Homo sapiens: one gene and its partners. The protein of the gene in region 1 interacts with the protein of each later gene in a biochemical or structural test. Each region holds a gene or a part of one and is shown in the gene's direction. Other genes may lie near its edges.

Evidence for each region.
Region 2: the proteins of DVL1 (region 1) and KLHL12 are reported together in a solved structure, tested with the Homo sapiens proteins (one study listed by BioGRID).
Region 3: the proteins of DVL1 (region 1) and CCDC88C form a complex in vitro, tested with the Homo sapiens proteins (one study listed by BioGRID).

The regions. Positions count from the first base shown.
Region 1 is NC_000001.11:1,334,765-1,339,442, reverse strand, and holds the end of DVL1 (segment polarity protein dishevelled homolog DVL-1), read left to right. Parts: intron 1-3; coding exon 4-156; intron 157-789; coding exon 790-921; intron 922-1,006; coding exon 1,007-1,174; intron 1,175-1,259; coding exon 1,260-1,466; intron 1,467-2,387; coding exon of another isoform or gene 2,388-2,398; exon of another isoform or gene 2,399-2,425; intron 2,426-2,927; coding exon 2,928-3,301; 3' UTR 3,302-4,165; downstream 4,166-4,678. UniProt on the Homo sapiens protein: Participates in Wnt signaling by binding to the cytoplasmic C-terminus of frizzled family members and transducing the Wnt signal to down-stream effectors. Plays a role both in canonical and non-canonical Wnt signaling.
Region 2 is NC_000001.11:202,890,620-202,896,271, reverse strand, and holds the end of KLHL12 (kelch-like protein 12), read left to right. Parts: intron 1-554; coding exon 555-750; intron 751-1,522; coding exon 1,523-1,681; intron 1,682-1,989; coding exon 1,990-2,088; intron 2,089-2,846; coding exon 2,847-3,033; intron 3,034-3,612; coding exon 3,613-3,739; 3' UTR 3,740-5,152; downstream 5,153-5,652. UniProt on the Homo sapiens protein: Substrate-specific adapter of a BCR (BTB-CUL3-RBX1) E3 ubiquitin ligase complex that acts as a negative regulator of Wnt signaling pathway and ER-Golgi transport.
Region 3 is NC_000014.9:91,302,821-91,309,857, reverse strand, and holds part of CCDC88C (protein Daple), read left to right. Parts: intron 1-1,365; coding exon 1,366-1,507; intron 1,508-2,631; coding exon 2,632-2,820; intron 2,821-3,931; coding exon 3,932-4,093; intron 4,094-5,879; coding exon 5,880-6,157; intron 6,158-7,037. UniProt on the Homo sapiens protein: Required for activation of guanine nucleotide-binding proteins (G-proteins) during non-canonical Wnt signaling. Binds to ligand-activated Wnt receptor FZD7, displacing DVL1 from the FZD7 receptor and leading to inhibition of canonical Wnt signaling.

The DNA.
Region 1 (4,678 bases):
CAGCTGACCCGGTGCGGCCCATCGACCCCGCCGCCTGGCTGTCCCACACGGCGGCACTGACAGGAGCCCTGCCCCGCTACGGTACGAGTCCCTGCTCCAGCGCCGTCACGCGCACCAGCTCCTCCTCACTAACCAGCTCCGTGCCTGGTGCTCCACGTAAGTGGCAGCTCCTGAGGGCCCCAGCAGAAACCGAGGCTTGGAGGGGGCGTCTCTGCCAGCCTCCAGCATGGCCGCCTGTGGCCGTCATGGGGCTGTGACACGTGTGTGTTGCCTGTCCCCAACTCCCTGCACAGACGTGTGCACAGGCACCCGTGCCCACCTTGTGCAGCCCATCCTGCTCATGGTCTGTGTGTTGGGAACAGGGGATGTACGTAGGGCCCCTATGCGGGGAGCACCCACGGCGTCAGAGGCAGGGGCCAGGTCTCCATTCTGCTTCCTGCCATTAACACGACTAACAGCCTGCGCTCTCGGGTGGGGCATGCGGGGAGGGGAAGGGGCCTGCCCTGTTCTCATTACTTCCTGGTCTGCAGGGTGGGGTGTCAGCCCAGTTTGTGCCTAGGATCCTGATGAAAAGTGTCTGTAGAAGTGGGAGACTAAATGTCCAACCCCCCTGCTCACGCCCCAGCCTCACGGGGGTGCATCCTGCAGTGGGCCGGGGCCCTGCTGTCACGCACCGTCCAGCTTGCGCCCTGGCGCAGGCTCTGCCCAGAGGCTCCCCTGGGGGTGCAGGGCCCTGAGTCCCCCGCCTTCAGATGCTGGGGCTGAAGCGGGGCTGTCTGTGCTTTGCAGAGCTGGAAGAGGCGCCGCTGACGGTGAAGAGTGACATGAGCGCCGTCGTCCGGGTCATGCAGCTGCCAGACTCGGGACTGGAGATCCGCGACCGCATGTGGCTCAAGATCACCATCGCCAATGCCGTCATCGGTGAGTGGCCGTCCCCGCGGGCGGATAGTGCCAGGGGCAGGGCTGCTTGCCTCGAGGCTGCGGGCTGACCGCTGGTGCCGGCCAGGGGCGGACGTGGTGGACTGGCTGTACACACACGTGGAGGGCTTCAAGGAGCGGCGGGAGGCCCGGAAGTACGCCAGCAGCTTGCTGAAGCACGGCTTCCTGCGGCACACGGTCAACAAGATCACCTTCTCCGAGCAGTGCTACTACGTCTTCGGGGATCTCTGCAGCAGTGAGTGGGGGCTTCGGGCTTCAGGGCGGGGGGGAGGGGAACGCCGGAGGCCCCTCCGCGGCCCTCACCTACCCTCCCCCGCCAGATCTCGCCACCCTGAACCTCAACAGTGGCTCCAGTGGGACTTCGGATCAGGACACGCTGGCCCCGCTGCCCCACCCGGCTGCCCCCTGGCCTCTGGGTCAGGGCTACCCCTACCAGTACCCGGGACCCCCACCCTGCTTCCCGCCTGCCTACCAGGACCCGGGCTTTAGCTATGGCAGCGGCAGCACCGGGAGTCAGCAGAGTGAAGGTGAGAACGCCGCCCCTACCTGCCCTTCCCCGGCTCCGCCCCCAGCTCCGCCCCACTCCACTGCTGCTCCGCCCCCAGTTCCACCCCACCCCGCTGCTGCTCCACCCCCAGCTCCACCCCACCCCGCTGCTGCTCCGCCCTGCTTCTCTGCTGACCCCAATCCCATGCTCCTGCTGTGTACTTGGGCCCTGGGTGGGCTCCTTCTGGAAAAGGCAAGTGCCAGGGGGATCCAGGAGCCAGTGTGAATGGGGAGGACAGGGAAGCGTCTCACACAGGGGCAGCCTGGACCCCACCTCATCTGGGTGGGATTGGGATGAGGGGCCTCCAGGAGCCTGGCGGCCTGGGCGGCTGTGCCTGGTAGGGGTGGCGGCTGGTGGTTCTCCTATGGTAGAGGCAGGAGGCCCTGAGACCATGTGGCCATGGGCCATGTGACAAGGACAGGGCAGGGGTGGCCAAGGAGTCTGACAGGGTCACTTTCTAGGCCCCAGGACACAGGAGGGTGGCAGCTGCAGCCCGGGTAGGGAGCCTGACGTGGATGGTGCCGTGCATCCTAGCCTTGTGCCCCTGGCTGGGGTGTGTTTAGGGGCCGGGGATCCAGAGTGTTCCTGAGGTGTTGCCTGGTGGAGCAGAGGCCCCAGTGGGTGGGGTTGGTGAGGCCAGCAGGGGCGTCTGCAGGCCAGGGAGGGGTGCAGGTGGCTTCGTGGAGGGCCCAGGAAGGAGGGCGAGAGAGGAGAGGCGGCCAGAGGGTGTGGGACCGCAGAGAAGCCACGCTGGGTGTCTACTGACCCTCGACCGGCGCTTGCGCCCACTTCAGCCCCGCCCAGCCCGCGGTCAGTCCCCACTGGTGGCGGGTGGGTGCTGGGCAGGTGCCAGGCAGCCGGGCGTGTAACTCGTGCTATCCCTTGTCTTGTGCTAAACAAGCCTTAGACTGAAGGACTAGCGGAGCGGACCTTGGGCCGGTAAGCCAGGGTCCCGCCCGGGGTCCCTCAGCATGTCCCCAGCCAGCCACGCCCTCCAGCTCCCACTGCGTCTTGGGAGCCCAGGACAGGGCTGAGCTGAGTCATCCGTCGGCCAGGGTCCTGGGCCGGGGGGACAGTGGGGCCTTGGGTGGGGAATCCAGGATGGCCACGGGGGCACCGGGCATGAGGGGCCCTCGCTGGCACCTCAGTCTTTCAGCCGCAAGACCAGGCCCTCAGCTCAAGCATCGGGGTGAGGTGTGGGGGCGCCCAGCTTGCCCCAGGACCCTGCCTGCCTCCCACTGCCCCCACCAGCCCATGCCTGCCGCAGCTGCCCCTGCGACCCTGGGGGTGCCGGCCCTGTCCTCGCGCCTGCATGGCTGCCCCACCCACCCGTCCTGCACGGGCCACCGTTCCTGCCCGGTCACCTGGCGGGGGCGGTTGTTCTGGACGTGGCCGGGCCTGGTGCTGACAGGCTCCTTCCCCATCCTGTTCTCACTCCCAGGGAGCAAAAGCAGTGGGTCCACCCGGAGCAGCCGCCGGGCCCCGGGCCGTGAGAAGGAGCGTCGGGCGGCGGGAGCTGGGGGCAGTGGCAGTGAATCGGATCACACGGCACCGAGTGGGGTGGGGAGCAGCTGGCGAGAGCGTCCGGCCGGCCAGCTCAGCCGTGGCAGCAGCCCACGCAGTCAGGCCTCGGCTACCGCCCCGGGGCTCCCCCCGCCCCACCCCACGACCAAGGCCTATACAGTGGTGGGGGGGCCACCCGGGGGACCCCCTGTCCGGGAGCTGGCTGCCGTCCCCCCGGAATTGACAGGCAGCCGCCAGTCCTTCCAGAAGGCTATGGGGAACCCCTGCGAGTTCTTCGTGGACATCATGTGACTCGTGGCGCATGCCCCAGCCCTGCCTGAGGTGGGGAGCTGGCGGTCCTGCCGCATGCAGAGCTCGCGTGGGCTTGCCTTCGTGGGGGCCAGGACGGGAGGCAGGGTGGGGGGCAGGCTGGACCACCACCATCTGCCCTGGCAGCCTGGCTGCTCCAGCTCCTGACAGCACCTGTGTCTGAGCAGCCGTGTTGGGGGCGCTCCCTCTCTGCCCCTCAGCGAGAGCCTCGGACCTCCCAACCCCTTGTGTCTGGTGGGGATCCCTCCTGGGATGAGGAAGACCCCCTCGGGCTCTCGGCTGACCCCCACCTCCTGCACAGCTGTGCCCAGGCCCCCAGGGTGGTCCATGCGGGGCAACCCCCTGCGGTGCACAGGCCCCCTGTCTGGAGTAGGGATCTAATTTATTTATTTATTGCCTGGCCGGTGACTCGGGGGAGGAGGCGACCCTGTCATCTGTCCCACCTGCTGCTGCCCCTTGGAGCAGCCTGCACCTTCTCTCCTCCCATCCGGCAACAGTCTGAAAGTACGTGGAGGACGGGACCGGAAGACGAGAGAGGGCTGGACATCCTGCCCACCGTGTCCCAGCCAGGGCAGGGAGGGACCATGGCCCGCAGGGTCAAGGGGCCCCGATGTGCACAGCTGCCACAGGGAGGGAGGTCTTGGGGAGATGGGCAGTCAGGTGGCCCGTCCTTGGTGAGTGCACACACTGCGCGCACACATCGCGGCCTTCCTGGCTTCTCTGGCCCCCACGTGTCTGTGCTGTAGATACTGTATCAAAGTCCCAGCGTTTAGATGGTTAACATAGAGCTGCTTCTGTGTAAATGCTGCTTATTTTAAACACTAAAAAGCGTTTAATTTTATGGGACAGATGTGTGGCCTGTGCCCCTTCTCTCCGGCTGGGCTGCCTTGGAATGAGGCACAGGGAGCTGGTCCAGCCTCCCCTAGGCCCTGCTGGGAGCTGACCCTGGGACTCTGACCGGAGACCCTGTGTGGGCCTGGCGGCGTGCTGGCGTCAGATCCTGGTGGGCAGTTTTCTGTCCATGGTGCTGGCTCCGGGGTCCTGGTGGTCGGTGCTGGCCGTGGTGCTGGACCCCGCCCCCACCCCACCTGGGCTCTGTCCCTGGTACTGGTGACAGTCATGATGCTGTCTACCCACTGGGCAAAGGGCAGAGTAGGAAGCTGGGTGCCACCCCTACCTCGGCGGGCTCTGCCCTGGGCATATGCCTGTGTGCCCCCACCTGGCCTCCCACTGCTGTGGTGCCTGGCAGGGTGCAGGATGGGGGCCCTGGTGGGACATGGTCAGGTCGGCAGGGCCTGATTTGGGCTTCCAGCCATCTGGCCGGGGCCTCCCTGCGTCCTTTTCCTGAGCTCACGGTGT
Region 2 (5,652 bases), about 200 Mb from region 1:
GAGGTTGCAGTGAACTGTGATTGTGCCACTGCACTCCAGCCTGGGTGATAGTGAGATCCCAACTCAGAAAAAAAAAGTTTGTATCTGTCTCCCTCAGCATGTCTCTCAGTGCTGAATGAACAATAGTAATTTCTGAGAAAACATGGAAATCCAACCCTCCTACCTTTTAAGGTTCTTATAATAAATCCTCATCCTTTGATTAGCAATGTGGGAATACTTTTCTACTTTATGGAAGGATATCAGTCTCTTAGCCCAGTGCCTTATGGAAGAGAAAGGAGTCAGATATTGGATAACAGAAAGCTGTTAAATCTTTTGGAAGCCTTGGAAAGAGGCAGAGATGCAGAAAGCTTGTATCTTTAAGAGCACCACAACAGGCATTTCGTTCAGTAGGTAGCTATTTGGGAGCCACTTGAGGATGAACCACTTAAGGAGGGTTCATGATGACAGGTGAAGAAGCAGAGAGGTGTGCAGATACAACAGGGAAGATAGCAAAAGGTAAGGCCCAAAACTTGCCTAACTGAAATGCTCTGTACCTCTTCTCTCCAAATCCATAGAGCATCACTCGTAAGAGACGTTATGTGGCCTCAGTGTCCCTTCATGACCGGATCTACGTCATTGGTGGCTATGATGGCCGTTCCCGCCTTAGTTCAGTGGAATGTCTAGACTACACAGCAGATGAGGATGGGGTCTGGTATTCTGTGGCCCCTATGAATGTCCGACGAGGTCTTGCTGGAGCCACCACCCTGGGAGGTAGGCTGGATGTGCAGGGCAATTATTTCCATCTTACTGTGGCTGGACCAGGGTTTTTAACCTCTCCTGTTGTCTGGCAGGAGCATGAAATACGGAGAAAAAATTAAGGTCAAATGTTATTATTATTTGAGACAGGGTCTCTCTCTGTTGCCCAGGCTGGAGTGCAGTGGTGTGATCACGGCTCACTGCAGCCTCAACCTCCCCAAGCTCAAGCGATCCTCCCACCTCAGCTTCCTGAGTAGCTGGGACTACAGGCATGCACCACCATGCCCAGCTATATTTTTGTATTTTTAGTAGAGATGGGGTTTCGCCATGTTGCCCAGGCTGATCTCTAACTCCTGAGCTCAAGTGATTGACCCACCTCGGCCTCCCAAGGTGCTGGGATTACAGGTGTGAGCCACTGTGCCCAGCCGACAAATACTCCTTTTTGCTTTCAGAAATATCAGTGTAATAGAAGCTGTTCAATATTCATGGATGTTTCATTATTGACTACAAAGTTGGCAAATCAAGTTCCAATGTGCTGGGTGGGGAACTGGCACTAGTTGTGTTTTTGCAAACTCCTAGGTGGTCTTTGAATGCTTTTAAGGATTTTGTTTTACCCCATTCTTTTTAGATGTCTTCCTTGTCTATAAAACTTAATTGACTTATCTCATTTAAAAATACTTTGTTTTTGCTCTCAGACTTTTAAAGGACCCTTGGAAAATTTGTAGAGGAAAGAGTTCTTAGAAATCTCTCATTCTCTAATAGTCTGTAATTTGTTTATTCTGAGCAGATATGATCTATGTCTCTGGAGGCTTTGATGGAAGCAGGCGTCACACCAGTATGGAGCGCTATGATCCAAACATTGACCAGTGGAGCATGCTGGGAGATATGCAGACAGCCCGGGAAGGTGCCGGACTCGTAGTGGCCAGTGGAGTGATCTACTGTCTAGGTATTGAGTCTGGGATGCAGGAATGGGAGGGAACTCAATGGGTAATGGGCTGTGGGTAAGGATTCCTTTTTACCAAAATGACGTTCATAGACTTCCCTTCAACTAAAACCCTGGTGTGTCTTAATATATTTTCCATTAATTGGGATTATCTTTTTCTTATAAGCATAATGTCAGATTTCTCTTAGAGTTATTGGAACTCTTGTGGGAAAATTGAAACTAAAATAATTAGTTGAAGCACTCAGAAAAAAACCGACCAGGAATGGGCATGAGGATTTACCACTCTTTCTGGAATGGTCTCTGTCTTCCAGGAGGATATGACGGCTTGAATATCTTAAATTCAGTTGAGAAATACGACCCTCATACAGGACATTGGACTAATGTTACACCAATGGCCACCAAGCGTTCTGGTAAGACCAGATCTGAGGGAGGGGACAATAGGCGATGCTGTCAGACCTTTACATATATAATGGTGGTGCATGGGACAAACCGTAGATTAATGTAAAAATGAGATTCTGCTCTCCTCCTTGTCTCTGTTTTCTCTAAATACTAGGATAAAGACAGTTGATACTTACAACTAGATTATAAATTTGAAAGCAAAAGCCTTCATGTCTTTGTTCTCTCCCTACGTTTTAGAATATCTAGTACAATTTTGCCTGTGTAGTACATGCTTAATAAATATCTGTTAAATAAAGTCTCTAATGCATAAGGACAAAAGAGTAGCTACTTACCTTCACCAAGAGCTTTTTGAAGTGGAGCAGGCTGGGATATAGAAAAGGAGAGAGCACTGTGCTGTTCTAGTTTACTTACTCTGGGTAAAAATTGCTTCAGAACCATAATCACAACTCCTTTCCCTCCATCTACCTTTATTGCCACCTTTTTTTCACTTCCTCCCTTTCTCCTAATTAGAAGGGTTGGGCTCTGAGTTAATGAAAGTAAAGAAGAGAACCATTTTTATTATTTATCTTTTATCATTTCAAGTCCAAGCCAAAGGGTTTATAGATGGAATAACTTGTGCTGGACTAGATTATTCTAGGCCCGTGTGGGCCCATTCCATATCCCTCATCTACTGTAGAACTCAGCTAGTCATTAGTGACCGTAGTTTATTTCTATAATTCAGATTCTAGGCTTAGTACCATACATTTGCTAATGCATTCATTTTCCCCAGGTGCAGGAGTAGCCCTGCTGAATGACCATATTTATGTGGTGGGGGGATTTGATGGTACAGCCCACCTTTCTTCCGTTGAAGCATACAACATTCGCACTGATTCCTGGACAACTGTCACCAGTATGACCACTCCACGATGCTATGTAGGGGCCACAGTGCTTCGGGGGAGACTCTATGCAATTGCAGGGTGAGGATTTAGAAACGAATCCAGACTCAATATGTAGCCAGAGCAAGAGTCTATGTGATCTGATCCTCATTTTTGGACAGAGACAAGACTTGGGTAGGGGTAGACATCTCCAGTGGCAACTTGATTTTTTTTATTAGATTTTTTTTATTTTTTAGAGACAGAGTATTGCTCTGTCACCCAGGCTGGAGTCTGAGTAGAGTAGCTGGGACCACAGGTGCACGCCACTGTGCCAGACTAGTTTTTTATGTTGCCTAGGCTGGTCTCCAACTCCTGGGCTCAAGCAATCCTTCCACCTCAGTCTCCCAAAGTGCTAGGATTACAGGTGAGAGTCACCATGCCTGGCCTCCAGTGGCAGCCTTAATGAAGGACTTGTGTGGAAAGGAATAGAAGGCTAATTTCTTTCTTTCTTTCTTTAAATTTTATTGAGACAGGGTCTCACCATGTTGCCCAGGCTGGTCTCAAATTCCCTCCTGGGCTTAAGCAATCCTCTTACCTCAGCCTCCTGCATAGTTGGGATTACAGGCACGTGCCACTGCACGCAGCTGACTCATTTCTTTCTTTTGCTTCTTTCCCACTCAGATATGATGGTAATTCCCTGCTAAGTAGCATTGAATGTTATGACCCTATCATCGACAGCTGGGAAGTCGTGACATCCATGGGAACCCAGCGCTGTGATGCTGGTGTTTGTGTTCTCCGCGAGAAGTGACCATTGTTGGAGCACCATCCAGAGCTAGTGACCAGTCCAGTGGACAGTTAGTGGGAGAATCAAAAATCCTTTCCAGAATGTCTGTTTCTCACTATGTGCACCGGGTGATTACAGGCACCAGTGCAGTGATGATTGTACTTATTTGACACATACTCCCCGTCGTCCTGGTTCTTGTTCCTGAGAAGGGTGGGTAACAGATATTCCAGGAAAAAGAATGCACATTGAATGGATGTGAGAGACCACATTGCCTCTCCCACTGCTTTGGGGAGCACTTTCCTGTCATTTCTAACTTACCACATGCTTGGTGTACTATATGTATGTTGTGCCTCATATGTTGCAAAGAACTAAGGTGAGTATAGCCTACTAGATATGGGCAATATCCAGCCTAGATGATTGGAAAGATACCAGTTTAAGTAAACTTGGTAAAATCCAAGTCTTTTTTTTTTTTTCCAGGAACAACTACATTTTCTCATATACAGGTAGCTAGGGGCAACACAGTTCCATTCTAGAGGGAAACAAAAGGGAGAGCCCCACAAAACTTTGGGGACAAGGGAGAGAGAGACTCATCTGACACTTCTTTTGGAGGTCAGGATTTGTATATCAGAATTGAAGTTAGAATTAAGTGAATTAAACTGAATTTGATTGTGAGTGAACCTAGAACAGCACTGAAGTATTACATAACCTGGAAGACTGAGAAGGGTATATTATTTGAAGGATCTTTTTATTTCCCCGAGGTCTTTCGCACTGGAGACAGCATAAAAGAGTGAACAAATGTTGGGATGAGAGAAGATGACATCAATGTGGGAGTTCAGTATAACTGGGGATAAACTAGAAGAACCTGTGATTTTACAGTCATCTTATTACCTGCCAGGGCTCATCTAGCCATGGCAATGTTTGCCTTGAATGGGGGTGAAAGCCTTTCTTTGTTGGATCAAATACTACTACACTATTACACTTCCACACTATTTATTTGGGGATGGGCTGGGAGTGACAGTAGCCTAGTAGTTCAGCTACCTGATTACTGCCCCATTCTTTTAGAAGCACATGTCTGCCAAGGAGTGGTTTGTACTGCTGTGTTTGGTACATCTAGTCTTTTTTCTGCTATAAGTTTTCCTTACCTGTCCTTTAGTGTAGATTTTATTCATCACAGGACAGAATAATCAAGGACAACCAAAATCCTTTTGTTAGTTTCAGTACCTCAGCTATCAACATTTCTGAGCTACCATTCAATGTTCCTCTGTGTCATGGAGTGAAATTCTTGTTTTGTGGGTATTAGGAGTGTGGGAATGTGATAACCTAAACAACCTTTGCTCTGAAATTCCATTTTTCCCTCTTTCCCTGAGTTGTATTGACCTACAGAGTTAATTTCCTTTGTATTTTTTTAAGAAAATATTAAAAATCAACGGTCTCAAATGCCGAGAGTTTGTGGCTAACCAACATTGCCTTTAGTAGATATTTGGGAGGGAAAGATGTAGGGATCAGCCGTAGCTCCTGTCTCTTCAAGCTGTTCATCTTGTGTGTTTGCCAACTAGTTCCGCTATTTCTATGTTAGACACAGGTAAGAGGTAGCCACTTTACACTTTGGAGATTCTCATCAGTAAAATATTTACCTGATTTGCCATATTCATTAGCCCCTCTGACGCTTGGAGTTACTTGAAAAAGGAATACAGAAAAGATCTTGAATTCACTTAGCACGCGCTTGAATTTCAGGGTTTCAGTCACACCAGTCCTTTTTTCCATTTGCTTTGAATTGTGGCATGTGATATAAACAGCTATGCGGAAGGCCTGCAAAACTGAAACAGTCCTGATGCTTCCAGAGCAAAAGGAAGGAGGAGCCACATGAGGAAGTTATTTTCCTTAAAAGATGCCTACCAACTTTGGCAGATGGATTGTGCATGCTAATTAAACCAAAG
Region 3 (7,037 bases), on another chromosome or scaffold:
TGAGGGCCTCTTCTCCCTCTCCCCATCGTGGGAGCACTTCCTCCACTGTTCAGTCTGCAGGCTCCTCACCCTCCCCTGAGACCTCCATGAACTCTCTACTGCCGAGGGCTGTGACCTCACGCGGTTCCTTGAACCCAAAGTTCCTTGGTCGTTTCTGTTCCAGCTCTTGTTCCTTGAGGTTCTCAGATAGGTGTGGAAGGAGATTTTGTCTGATGAAAAAGCTTCTTAATTTTTTTTTTTTTTTTTTTGAGACAGGGTCTGGCTCTGTTGTCCAGGCTGGAGTGTAGTATTATGATTTCGGCTTACCTCCATGTCCACCTCCCGGGTTCAAGCGATCCTCCAGCCCTAGCTGGAGACCACTACCTAGCTGGGACCACAGGCATGCACCGCCACACCTGGCTAATCCTTGTATGTTTTGTATAGAGGGGGTTTCGCCATATTAGCCAGGCTGGTCTTGAACTCCTGAGCTCAAAGCGATCTGCCCACCTCAGCCTCCCAAAATGCTGGGATTACAGGTGTGAGCCACTGCTCCCAGCCACGCTTCTTAATTTTTTTAAAAAATTAGACTATTACAGTTTTTCCCTGCAATGCTTGCTTAAATGATAATGGGTTTTGTTGTTGTTTTGAGACGAAGTGTCACTCTGTCATCCAGGCAGGAGTGCAGTGGTGTGATCCCGGCTCAGTGATGAAAACCTCCGCCTCCTGGTTTTAAGTGATTCTTACGCCTCAGCCTCCTGAGTAGCTGAGATTACAGACATGCATCACCATGCCCAGCTAATTTTTGTATTTTTTTAGTAGAGACGGGGTTTCACCATGTTGGCCAGACTGGTCTCGAACGCCTGACCTCAAGTGATCCTCCCGCCTTGGCATCCCAAAGTGCCGGGATTACAGGCATGAGCCACTGTGCTCGGCCTGATCTTGTTTTTTGGGAAATCGAACATCTTGGACTTTTCCTGGACTTGTAACCGAGAAGATCCACATGCCTTATAGTAGGAGTCCTCTCTGGTGGAAAGGCCTTAGACTTACCACTTAACCTAGCACTGTGACCTTGGGCAAATTGCTTAACCTTTCTGAGACTCAGTTTCCCCTTCGGTAAAATGGCAATAATAATTCCTGCCTCAGACAGTGACTGTAAAACTGTAGCCGTGGTGTCGCCTTTGAAGGTTTCACAGGTGTTTCTACCCAGGGAACCCCCCAAAGGGCTCTGGGAAGATGAGTTTTGGCTCGTGAGTTCTTCTGGGCCAAAAGCTGCAGCAGCTCCGTAACCCAGCCTAATGGAAGGAGTGATGTGTTGGCAGCGAGGACACTGGGAACTTGCGGAGAGGAAGTAGATAAGTGATACTATTGTATCTTTGTGTTTTCCAGAAAATACAAGATTTTGGAGGGCAGAAATGAATCAGCATTAAAAACAACACTAGCCATGAAAGAAGAAAAGATTGTGCTCTTAGAAGCACAGATGGAAGAGAAAGCGAGCCTAAATCGCCAGTTAGAGAGTGAGCTGCAGATGGTGAGTGTGGAGGTTGCACTGTGGGGCCCAGCTGCCCATTCTCAGCCTCACCCTTTCCAGCCCCTCACCTGTATAGCAGTGGGGTGGCCTGGATACCCATTTTCTAGGGCAGGGGTAGATGCGCCACAGAGTGACTGAGGGAGCCACCCTCAGAATCACACGCACTAGGGCCAAACAGAACCAGAATAAGAGCCACAGGCCTGCGGGGAGGCGGGCAGTGGCCTAGAGCAGCACCAAGTCCACCAGGCAAGATACGGGAACACCCCTGAGAGCCCTCCATGAAACTGCACGTTGGGCACTGAGCAACGGCCTGCAGAGTCTCACGGGTGCCCTCTGATGAGACAGATGGGTGCACAGGGACTCATGAGGACATGCACATGTCTACTTCTGGGTGCATGCATGCACACGTATTTGCCACATGTGTGAACACACTTTCCATACACATATAGATGTGTGTTCTCCACACATACACACTCTCCACATATGCACATGCTCCTTACACATGTACATGCATGCTCTCTACACACATGTATTATACATGTGCCCACCACGTGTGTGCACACTCCACACACAAACACATGCTCCTCACACACAGGTGTACACACCCGACACGTGCTCTCAATGTGCACACTCTCACAGGTGATCAGGTGTGCACACTCCCCCCTTCCACACACGCACTCTTCCAGCCTCAGTTTTGAACACATGCCATGCTTCTTGGCTGCAGGATTGAATAGGAATCTGGATAAAGCTGCTCCAGTGCCAGCAGGGGCTTTGAGACCTCATCCCTGTTCACCTCCTGTATCCTCAGCCTCACCTCTGTTTGAGGGAGTGGATAACTGAGGCTCAGGAAAGCAGGAAGCCACATGGCTAAAGCAGGGACTGAGGCAGGAACGGGTTGCAGGCCCCCACCTCCCTGTCCTCTCTGGAAGGGAAGGGAAAATGTAGGGCAGAGGGTTGGTGCCTTCCCCTCAAAAGAAAAGGAGCGCGTCTGGCTTACACAGACCAGGGCGGGCGAGTATGGGGAGTGTGGAGGGTGTGGTGCAGGTTGCCCTCAGCCACTCACTCGGGGCTCCAGGCCAGGCTGCTTCCGCCTAAAGCCTCCTTGCTTATTGTCACACCTGTAGCTAAAGAAGGAGTGTGAGACCCTCAGGCAGAACCAGGGAGAGGGGCAGCACTTGCAGAACTCTTTCAAGCACCCTGCGGGGAAGACAGCCGCCAGTCACCAGGGGAAGGAGGCCTGGGGGCCCGGCCATAAGGAAGCCACCATGGAGCTTCTCCGAGTGAAGGACCGGGCCATCGAGCTGGAGCGGAATGTGAGTGGGCTGGCCTGGGCATGGTCCATCGGGGACAGAGAGAGAGAGACTGCCTTATCAGTAGTCCCATTGATGACTTGTCATTGCTGTAAAGAACACAGGAGATTTAGCCAGATCTAGTTGGACACGTCTTGAGTTGCAGGTCCTGTGGGCCCCTCTTCATTTGAGGTCCCTTCCGTGATTCTCACATCAGGGGCACACACAGCCTTCATGGCAATTCAGCCTCTTCCTGTAGTGTTGTGTCTTTCAGTGCCCAGTACCAGGGATTGGGAAACTCCAGCCCCCACCTGCTTTTGTAAATAAAGTTTTATTAGCAGACAGTCATGCCCATTGTTTAGAGGTTGTCTGGGGCTGCTTCCCCTACAGTGACAATGATTCTTTAGGTTGAGATGGAAACCCCATGGCTGGCAAACCCAAAAGTATTTCCTATCTGGCCCTTTCTAGAAAAAGTCTGCTAATGCATGTCCGTGCCTCTGACTTTGATTCTCAACAATGACTTTATGAAGTTCAGAGTGGTGATTTTCATTATTTGATCGATGATAAAGCTCAAACAGAATTTCAGAGACTTGACCCAAAGCCCCATGCTAATAAGGGATAGTAAAAGACTACAGGTCCTGGCCCTTAGCCCAGTTGGTGGCAAACTTTAACATGGTCTTTATTAGTCTCACATAATGTGAAGTGCCTTATTCTACTTGCTGTCACCTCTGAGTAAGGCTGTAGCCTAAGGCTTTGACTCCCTGTCCTGTGAGATACTCAGGGTTGGAGTCAATGGGAGATGGAACCAGCTCACAGAAATGCACTCTTAGGGTGTTCAACAGAAAACAAAGGAAAGCATTAAAGAGACAAAGGAAGCAGCTTTAACTCCAGCATGCATTCACCTCCCACTCACATATGCAGGTGTCAGGCAGTGTCCCCATGATGTGTAGCCTTTAAAAAAAATCCTGCTGATTATCTTTTTCAAAGAGAGAAAATATACTGACCTCATCCAGCGGACCCTCGATTTGGCCCCCAAAACATCAACTTTTGAGGGTTCGTTACAACCCAAGTACCTGTGGCCAGTTAGCATTTACCCAGTTGGAGTTTGATTCGCTCATGCCTCCCGATCTTCTAGAATGCAGCTCTGCAGGCTGAGAAGCAGCTGCTAAAGGAACAGCTGCAGCACCTGGAGACCCAGAACGTGACCTTCAGCAGCCAGATCTTGACACTGCAGAAACAGAGCGCCTTCCTGCAGGAGCACAACACCACACTGCAGACCCAGACCGCCAAGCTGCAGGTGAGCGGGGCTCCCAACACCAGTGGTCACAAGCCTGGCGGGATGTTTATCTGTGGCTCCTGGGGACCAACTGGGGGCATTAGGACTCCTCAAAAGCAGCAGATCAAAGCACAAAGCAGTTTGGGATTTTGTTAATAGAGACCCGCTGTAAACAGTGATCAGTGAAGGGGGTGATAGTTTTTAAGCCATTTTCAGTGATTGAGAAAATGGCTGCATGGGCCATTTTCATTTCATTTCTCTCCTTTTACTTGCATTCTTGTCCATGTTTTCCAGTCTTTTCCTTGAAGTGTTACTAGGACTGACTTGGAAAAGAGGTTTCAGGATTAAGCTTGGTTTAACAAAGTTAACCAGGTTTCTTTACTGTAGAACCTGGCAGAACTCTTTCTTTTTAAGCTAATGTGAATTTTTAATCTCTAAGAGGGAAGTGTAGGATATTAAGTGGCTCCCAGACTGTTGAGAGCATCAAGCAGAACTAGGTTGTGTGCCACTTCAGATGCTTGTTTTCATTTATCGCCTATAGACTGTGGGGAAATAAATTATTTATTGCAGTTTTTGTTTGTTTGTTTTGAGATGGAGTCTCACTCTGTCACCCAGGCTGGAGTGCAGTGGTGCGATCTCGGCTCACTGCAAGCTCCACCTCCCAGGTTCAAGTGATTCTTGTGCCTTGGCTAATTTTTGTATTTTTAGTAGAGATGGGATTTCACGAAGTTAGCCAGGCTGGTCTCGAACTCCTGACCTCAAATGATCCACCCACCTCACCTCCCAAAGTGCTGGGATTACAGGCGTGAGCCACCACACCTGGCTTTTTATTGCAATTTCTGAGAAAAGTTTGAAAATATGTATCTTATGGGGCAAGGACAATCAACAGGAAACTGTTTGGCAAAGAAATCGGAATTTGTTCTGGTAACAAGAAAATAGTATATTGACTTACTATTTTGAATTTTTCTTACAGTCTTAATCTGGTTTTAATATCAGGGTAATTCTGGCTTCATAAAATGATTTGGGAAGTATTCCCTCCTCTTCAGTTTTCTGATGATTTTGGATGTTGTTGGATGGAGAGGTATACAAATATCAATTATGTTAAGTAGGTTGATAGTATTGTTCAGGTATTCTATATCCTTATTTACAGATATTCTGTATACTTGTTCTAGAAAATAGGTTCTGTTTTCATTGTAAGAGACAGGGTTTCACTCTGTCGCCCAGGCTGGAGTGCAGTGCTGCAATCATAGCTCACTATAACCTCCAACTCCTGGGCTCAAGCAGTCCTCCTGCCTCAGCCTCCCAAGTAGCTGGGACTATAGGCATACAACACCATGCCCAGCTAAGTTAAAAATACTTTTTTTTTGTAGAGATGGGGTCTCACTATGTTGCTCAGGCTGGTCTTGAATTCTTTGGTTCAAGTGACCCTCCTGCTTCTGCTTCCTGAAGTCCTGGGATTACAAGCCTGAGCCACCACAGTCAGCTGAAAAGAGGTTTTTAAAAAATAGTCAGAGAGGGCACAGCACACAAGGGAGTTATCCAGGGAAAGGACATCATCTGCCCCAGCAGCTCACATTTGTGGCGAGTGGCTCAGGACTGAAGTACCCTCTGAGTGCCCGTCTATGCGGTTTAGTCCCCTTCCCACAGCAGTTGCTTAAGTTCTGGAACAGCCATCCTGGGTACCCTCTGGGTCTTCTGCCCTGAGGGTCCCGGCTATTTTCGTGTCTGCTCGAGCACTTGACCTGCTCCCCAGCCCTCCTCGCTGACTGTGGGGCCTGCGCCACGCCGCGCTTCTCCCTCTCGGCAGGTGGAGAACTCCACGCTGAGTTCCCAGAGCGCAGCGCTCACCGCGCAGTACACGCTGCTGCAGAACCACCACACGGCCAAGGAGACGGAGAACGAAAGCCTGCAGAGGCAGCAGGAGCAACTTACAGCGGCCTACGAGGCCCTGCTGCAGGACCACGAGCACCTGGGCACGCTGCACGAGCGGCAATCGGCCGAGTACGAGGCCCTCATCCGCCAGCACAGCTGCCTAAAGACACTGCATCGGAATCTGGAGCTGGAGCACAAGGAGCTCGGGGAGAGGTAGGGCCTGGGGAAGGAAGGGGATCTGGGGAGGGGTAGAGTCCAGAGGAGAGGCTGGGCCCAGGGGGAAAGGTGGGGCCTGGGGTAGATGGGTGGGACCTAGGGGAGAGGCAGGGCCTGGGGAAGATGGGTGGAGCCTGGAGGAGATGGGTGGGACCTGGGGGAGAGTGATAGAGCCTGGAGGAGGGGTGGGGCCTGGGGAGAGGGGTGGAGCCTGGAGGAGAGGCAGAGCCTGGGGAGAGAGGTGGAGCCTGGAGAGAGGCGGGGTCTGGGGGAGGTGGGTAGGACCTGTGGGAAAGGCAGGGACTGGGGGAGATGGGTGGAGCCTGGACGAGAGGCGGGGGCCTCGTGAGAAGGGTGGAGCCTGGAGGAGAGGTGGAGCCTGGAGCAGAGGTGGGGTCTCAGGAGAGGGTCTCAGGAGAGGCAGGGCTTTGGGGAAGTGGGCAGGGCCCGGGGGAGAGGCAGGGTGTGTGGGGAGGGGAGGTGAAGGAGGGTGGAGGTGGGGCCCCTGGGTAGGCCTGCAGCGGGGCCTGAGGCCAGGCCTGGGGAGTCTGTCAGGCTGCGCGGAGGACTGGGACTTCCCTGGACCTCCCCTGCAGGAAATCTCTTGGCCAGCTGCTTCCCATTGTTGGGGCACCTGAGCTTTCCCAAAAGGAAGGAAATAAACGTTACCTTTAGCAATTTGGAATTTGTGCAACTGAAGACAGTAGTAAGAGGGGCTCCTGTGTGGAGAAGGGGATGCCTCTACTATTTCCAGTGGGCCTTTGGGGCCCTGATCCCTAAGGGTTCTCTTCTGTCTCTTTTCTCCCCAAAACAGAAATAAGGAGGGAATTCTCCACGGCTCCGTTTGTAGGGGTATGCCTTCTCTGGCCTCCCAGCT